Linked DNA regions of Homo sapiens. The protein of the gene in region 1 interacts with the protein of each later gene in a biochemical or structural test. Each region holds a gene or a part of one and is shown on either strand. Other genes may lie near its edges.

What was found.
Region 2: the proteins of NOS1AP (region 1) and SNTG1 interact in a test that uses a peptide from one of them, tested with the Homo sapiens proteins (one large-scale study listed by IntAct).

What each region holds. Positions count from the first base shown.
Region 1 is NC_000001.11:162,362,864-162,366,900, reverse strand, and holds part of NOS1AP (carboxyl-terminal PDZ ligand of neuronal nitric oxide synthase protein), read right to left. Parts: intron 3,919-4,037; exon of another isoform or gene 1,552-3,918; coding exon of another isoform or gene 1,498-1,551; coding exon 1,332-1,497; intron 1-1,331. UniProt on the Homo sapiens protein: Adapter protein involved in neuronal nitric-oxide (NO) synthesis regulation via its association with nNOS/NOS1. The complex formed with NOS1 and synapsins is necessary for specific NO and synapsin functions at a presynaptic level.
Region 2 is NC_000008.11:50,659,907-50,663,406, reverse strand, and holds part of SNTG1 (gamma-1-syntrophin), read right to left. Parts: intron 1-3,500. UniProt on the Homo sapiens protein: Adapter protein that binds to and probably organizes the subcellular localization of a variety of proteins. May link various receptors to the actin cytoskeleton and the dystrophin glycoprotein complex.

The DNA of each region.
Region 1 (4,037 bases):
CCTTCCTCCCGCCCCCACATAGCTCCAGACACACCTCGCTGGAGGGGAGGAGCTTTGGGACGTGGTAAAGGCGGGGACATAAGAACCATATGATGGTTCTGGTAGCCACTGAAGGCTCTGAATAGGGTTAGTGGTAGGAAAAAGGTACCAATTGAGAGAACCATGTTAGAAGCCTGTGGTAACCTTTAGTACAATCATGTAAATAAGCATTAATTAGGATAGAGCAGAGTTTCAATGAACAATCTGGAAAATCCAGAGAGGCTTCCAGAGTGGTGAAGGGCACTGGTTTCCAATCCACACCTCTGGGCTACTTTAAAAATACAGGCTCCCAGACCAGCCCTAGACAGAACGATGTAGGATCTCAGTAGGAAAGACGCATTTTTAAAAGAGCTCATGGGATGGTTTGGGGGAACCACTGGTATAGTTGGAACAAAATTTTGCAATCAGATCTAGGTTTGAATCTTGGCTCTGCTCCTTGCTAGGCCTATAACCTTGAGCTAGTTACTTAACCTCCCTGAGTCTGTTACCTCATCTGTAAAATGGCATCCCATTTTTCTGCAGCAGAACTACAGGGATTAAATGAGCTCACAGGCAAAAAATTCTATCACAGTTTCTGGCACAATATGTGATCAATGGCTATTTGCTGGTCCACAGCCCACACACACTCTGAGCATGCAAACAACCCACGGAAAGGCTCAAGAGGAAGGCGTGAAAATGTGTTGCGATCTACAGCTGCCCAGCCCAGCCCAGGGGTACTGAGTGTAGAGACAGCTTCTCAAGCAGGGGCCAGGCAACCTCTGCTATTGCCCAGCAGAGCAGTGCAGCCAGATTCCACTGCCTTATCCACTGAACAGATATACTGCTCCCAGCTTTTTCTGTGTGACAGAGTCTTGAAATACATAGTGCAGAGTAGTAAACTAAGAAACAATCTGCTGTCTCCCACAGAGCTCACAGAGACCATGACACCCAATAGGTGCCAAGTATACTGTTTGTTGATTGCAAAAGCTCTCTGAGAAAGAAATGGGCTGCCCTAGAACACAGAGTACCTGAGCCCCTATCAAATAGAGACTGGATGAGCACATAGCAGTGACTCCGGGGACATTCAAAGTCCAGCCCTGGGCCTGGATTAGAAGGCACCCGAGATCTCCTTTGGGCATGTGATTCTGTAATTCATTAAGTATACTAATGGGAAAACAAAGCTGCCTATGTTTTCTGCTGGAATATAGGGGTAGGTCAGGGGTCCAAGAAAGCACCACCAAAAACTTAAGGAAAGTGACACTCTTTCCAGAGCCTTCACAGAGGAAGCAGGGCTGGGCAGGGCACTGGCTTACTGGCGTTCTGTCCTGACAGCTTCAGTTCCAGCTCTTGCACCTGCTTGACCAGCAGGGAGATGTGCTGGAGCATGTCCTTGTTCTGCAGCAAAAGCTGATGCACGCGAGCCTGGGCCTCCAGCCGCGCCGCAGCCTCAGCAGCCAACTGGTCCTTCAGCAAGTGTACCTGCAGAGAAGAGGCAGCGGCAGAGAAGACAGGACAGAGAGAAGAGAGGGACATGAATGCACATGAGAGTCACTGGCAGATGGCCGGGACCAGAGATGCCCTCCACATTCAGTTCAAGAAGAAGCCCTTCACGGGCAGCATGGGCATCTGGGCTTATCATTCCAGAGGAGGAGCCAAAAGGAGTGGGTTCACTGGCACTGCGAAGCTGTGTGTCCTAAGGGAGGGCCATGATGCATCACTAAGGTACCCATACCAAGGGCAAGAGGCAGGAAAGAGCCATCGACCCTCTAGACCTGCCACACACACACACGTACACACACACGTGCACATATACACACACACACGCACGGTGCTCCATCCCTGCTTAGAGAACTCCTTCAGCACCTAGCATGGCATGCCATGTTGGAGGTGGAAGGGGGCACTCTCTTCTCATCCTGTCTTCTAAAAAACAAAACCAAAACTCATCTATTGACCCACTGGCTAAGAACAGTGTCACAACGAAGCCCATATAATCTTTCTCCCTCTCCCACTCACCCAAACATAGTGAGAAATAGGAAGCACTACACATGGCTTTTTAAATTAGTGAGGCAGCTGTCATCAAGCCACTCTGTAGGCGACAGCTTCTTTCCCTGTCTTCCTTTTTTATTTGCTATGGCAGACATCTAGGACCATGATTCATACCACATATTACCAGGACCACCTGGTAGGGGTCAAACATTTGCTGACTGATTCATGAGAGGGCCTCCTCCAACCAGCCCAGAAGGGCTGAGGTGAACAATTTGTGGCACCCTCATCAGTTTCCAACCTTCTTAAGGCAGAGCAGTTGGCAGCAATGCATTCAGCATGCTTGAGGCCCAGTGGTGTCAACAGCTCTGTTCTTGGTGAGCAATACTTATGTGGAGATAAAACTCAGTGGGAGGAGACAGGGGCAACCAGACCAGGACCCTGGTTTGAAGAAACTGAGTTAGAAGGCCAATACCAGTGTTCACACATATGTGATTCTTGTGCAAAGAAGTGAATAAAGAGTTCTCCAGGGAGCATTTCAGAAGGCCCCTGAAGAAAGGGAACTAATGAATTTTTATGGCCTGGACCAATGTAGCTTATGGGGAAAAGGGTGTTCTTGTACCAAAACCATGGTGTGGGTAAAGACAGAGCCAGGTGAGTGGGGGCAGGAGAGGTGGGACGAGGATGCAGGAAGATGGATGGGGAGTCAAAAGCATTAGCTGATTCCCTTGCTCAGAAAACAAGTGCTCAAATTTCTGAAGAGGAGTTTGCTCCAAAGAGATTCACATTTTTTTAGGGAGTAAAGGGCAGTGCTACCTCACAGTTGGCCACCCTTGGCCAAGTGACTTGCTGGCCCAGGGTGTGCCCCTCCCAGCAACCAGCACTCAGAGAATTACACTTGTGGATACCGTGGCTGCCTCCCTCTTGCCCAGATTGGAGGCCCTGACCTTGCCGTTGACCCTATTTCTGATTGAGTGGAGCCACAGGGGCATAATGCCTAAGGAATTTAAACTAAATCTGTCCTCCATAAAGCTGCTAAGGACAGAACTGATATTTTGGTCAAGAAGTCAGACTCATTTTTTTGTCTCATATTAATTGAGAGAAGATCTGGGGAGGGGTGAGAACAGGTGTGATACAGTGAAATACATGTTTGGTCTTCATCCCTGTTTCCTGACATATAGCTCCCCAAACCCTTGAGATCTCCAGAGTGGTAAGAGTGTTTTTTGTATGCTTATTAGATGATTAGTGGTTGGGGAACCCCTGGAAGCTTCGGGATGGGGGCTGCTCACAGGACAGACCAAGGTATGATTAGAGGATAGGATTTTTCAGTCCCACGCCCCAACCTCCAGGAGATGAGGGGCTAAAAGTTAAACTAATCACCAGTGGCCAATGATGTAATCAATCATGCCTACATAATAAAGCCTCCATTAAAAACTCAAAAGGACTGGGTGTGGGGAGCTGCCGGGCAGCTGAACATTTAGAGGTTCCTGGAGGGTGGTGCACGTTGGGAGGGCATGGGAGCTCTGCCACCCTTCCCACAGACCCTGCCCTATGCATCTCTTCCATCTGGTGTTCATTGGTATCCCTTATAATATCCTTTAAAATAAACCAGTAAATGTAGGTGTTTTCCTGAGTTCTGTCAGTTGCTCTAGCAAATCAGTTGAGTCCAAGGAGAGGGTAGTGGGAACACCAATTTATAGCCACTTGGTCAGAGGTGTAGGTGACAAACTATTACTTGTGATTGGTGTCTGAAATGGGGGAAAGTCTTGTGGGATTGAGCCCTCAAACTGTGGGATCTGATGCTGTTTCCAGGTAGATAGTATCAGAATCAAACTGAGTTAGAGGACACTGTGTGCCCTCTGCAGAACTGCTTGCTTGCTTGGTGTGTGGGAAAAAGCCCCATACATTTGGTCATAGAAGTATGTTGTGACAGTATAGCAGGAAGAAACTGAGTTTGTTTCTTCCTATATCCACTCAACAGGGAAAGAAATGTCAATAATATTGTAATCTGGATGTCAGATGGTGGGTGGCTATTA
Region 2 (3,500 bases), on another chromosome or scaffold:
CCCCTTCATCTCCATCTCACGTTGCATTCGAAGAGGATTTTTAAATGGGCAACCTCAGTCCCTCCCTATGCTTGACATGCTTTAGTGGCTGTCCTTTGTTCCTCAGATAAAGTTCATGTGCTTTATTAAGGCCTTTTCCTATGATCTGTTCCATCCAAACACCAACACCAACCTCATACCCAAGATGACTACAGCTGTAACAAACTTGTTTGCCTTGTTGAAGGGACACATACTTCTTTGTAGCTCTGGGCAAGTTTATACATTATTCCTTGGACCAGGTTGCTCCTCCCCTCCTACTGGCTGGACTCCAACCCCTGCCATGACACATCTTCCTCTGTGGAGCCCTTTCACAGTCACTTAGGTTTCAGTTCATTAAAAGCCTCCTCCAAAATGCCCTTCCTAAACTCCTTCATCAGCTGGAATTTTTGTGAGTTCAACTCTCTTATACTGTTGTATTTATCCTTAATACCTAGTGGAGTGCTTGGCACATAGAAGGTACTCGAAGTAACTGATATGAATTAACAGACAAAAATGCATTCACAAATCAGTTAACCAATTCCTAATCTTCACAGCACCCTCTGCATCCATAGCTGCATTTCACAGATGAAGAACTGAAGTTCATAGTGCCCAATACACTCATAAAGGGTAATGTTTTAGTAACAGAAGTGGCATTTGTTGCCAAATTCCTTTTTCTGAAACCTTTGCTCTCTCATCAGTACCAGGCTGGCTCTCTGGTTCCCATCTTTTTTCCCAAATTATCAATATTTACGCTGAGAGACAGAGACAGTGTAGTATCATGTGCAAGAGCACAGAATTTTGACACATTGCAAGATTCATATCTTTAGCTCTGATATTTACTAGCTGTGTGACCTTAGGCTATTTACTTAAACTGCTTTTTGCCTCAGTTTCCAAATCTCTAAAATGGGAATAACAATAACTGACAGATAGTGGTGCTGTAAATACAAACTGAATTCATATACTAAGCACTTAGGACAACACCTGGCACATACATATAAACTATATGTACCAGATAAACCTTATTGCTTCATTTTTGTTATTACTGGTGTAGCTTCATTATGAACACATCAGAAGGGACAGGATTTTCCTGATTAATGGTCACAGGCAAGTTCTTCTGTGATCCAGACATTCAAATCTGACTTTTAATTAGCCTCACCTGAGGGATCCATTTTCTGGAGGCAGAAGTCTACAACTTGCACAGCTTGCATCAGAAGTGATACCTCATGGCAGGAGAGGGCTGGGCTGTAGAAGACTCCCCCTCTGATTTAGGCTGTAGAAGATGCCCCTTCTTATTTGCTCACCTGCCCCACCTATCTGACTGGCTTCCTTATCAACCAGTGATCCTGACACAGGAGAAGGCCAGAAGGTAATCTGCATGCAGGAAAATAATCCATTAGCATCGAATCTAGAAGCCACTCCTCTGTTCTCATGCTACATGAAATTTTCCTTTGGGAAAAGGAATGCTTGAAGGATGGCTTTATATGTCTAATGTCAAGCCACAAAGCATAAAGCACCAGCATTGTACTTACTAAGGGGAGGGGGACTTCCTTGATTACATACAACAATTGAAGGTAGATTTACATTGTATTTGATGTATGAGAATACTTATCGCCAGGCCTCACTAACCTATGTAAACATTTTCCCAAGTAGAACATCACACACCAGGGCCTGTTGGGAGGTTGGGGGCAAGGGGAGAGACATCATTAGGACAAATACCTAATACATGCAGGGCCTAAAACCTAGATGATGGGTGGATAGGTGCAGCAAACCACCATGGTACATGTATACCTACGTAACAAAACTGTACGTTCTGCACATGTATCCCAGAACTTGAAGTATTAAAAAAATTCAAGTAAACTAAGGCTTATAGAAAATTGTATATAGAAAGTTAAAATGAGAAGTAGTCTTTGATTTTAATTTGGTCAGAATGTAAATATACAGGCACTCTCATAGACACTTCTGATGGCCGCATAAGTTAAGATGACTTGTAGGAGGCAATTTGTACACATGGATTTAATATCTTGAATACATTAAAATATTTTTCCACATGGGGTTTCCAAAGCTCAGAATTTAGACTAAAGGAAATAAGAATTTGCATAAAAGTCTGAGCAAATATCAGTCCTTCCTACATATTATTATTTTGTCTCATTTATTTACTTACTATTTTTGTCTTCTTTATTGATTTACTTAACATCATATCACCTAATAAAATGCAAGCTCAATGAAAGCAGTGGCTTTTTCTGCATTTTTCTCAGCCACATAACAAGTGCTGAGGTTACCTGGTATATAGCAAACATTTAATTTTCTATTAAACCATTCAAATAATGATTGTTGTGATATGCCTGATAGCAATAACAAGTGGGGGAAAAAACTAAATGTAAAATTTTAAAGTGGACTCAATGAATACAAGCAAATGATGGGATAGATGAAATCTATCAAAAAGTTATCAGTGTTTTTAAGGAACATTAACTGTCATAGAAAAAAATCTCAAGACATATTTTTACACAAAATAGCAGATCATGAATTGCATAATCTTTGTCAAAAATTGTAACAAAGAGATAGAACATATTGTTTGTATATCTTGATAGAGCTAAACATAATGTTTATTATTTCCTTTAAAATTATCCTTTTTAACTACTATAGTAAACTGCATTATGTTCTAATGTTTAAATAGCTTTTTTTAAAAGAGAGGATTTAAAAGATCATGCAGCTACTTGGAGAGTGGTTAGAAAATAATTTAAGTCTAAGTAAGAATATATAAATATGTGTTGCGTTATTACTATGATAAAAGTTGTATTAGTGTACAGATAGAGAATAGACAAAGTTGATTTGTTGAGGCAGTTTTCTTTCCTTCCTTCCTTCTCCCTCCCTCCCTCCCTTCCTTCTCCTTCCTTCTTTCCTTTCTCCCCTCTGTGCACTCCCTGCCCTTCCTCCCTTTCTTTTTTCTCTTTCTTTCTTTCTTCTTTCTTTCTTTCTTTTCTTTCTTTCTCTTTTTCTTCCTTCCTTCCTTCCTTCTTTCTCTCTCTCTCTTTCTTTCTTTCTTTCTCTTTCTTTCTTTCTTCTTTCCTTCTTACTGTCTCTCTTTCTTTCTCTTTCTTTCTTCTTTCCTTCTTTCTCTCTCTCTCTCCTTCCCTCCTTCTTTCCTTCCTTCTTTCCTTTTCTTTTCTTCTTTTCTTTTCCTTCTTTTCTTTTCTTTCTTTCTTTTCTTCCCCTAATTACATGAGTAGCTTTCCTAAAAATACACAGTTCGCCCTGGCGCGGTGGCTCATGCCTGTAATCCTAACACTTTGGGAGGCGGAGGTAGGCAGATTGCCTGAGCTCAGGAGTTCAAGACCAGCTTGGGCAACATGGGGAAACCCTGTCTCTACTAAAATGCAAAAAGTTAGCTGGGCATGGTGGCATGTGCCTGTAGTCCCAGCTACTCAGGAGGCTGAGGCAGGAGAGTTGCTTGAACCTGGGAGGTGGAGGTTGCAGTGAGCCGA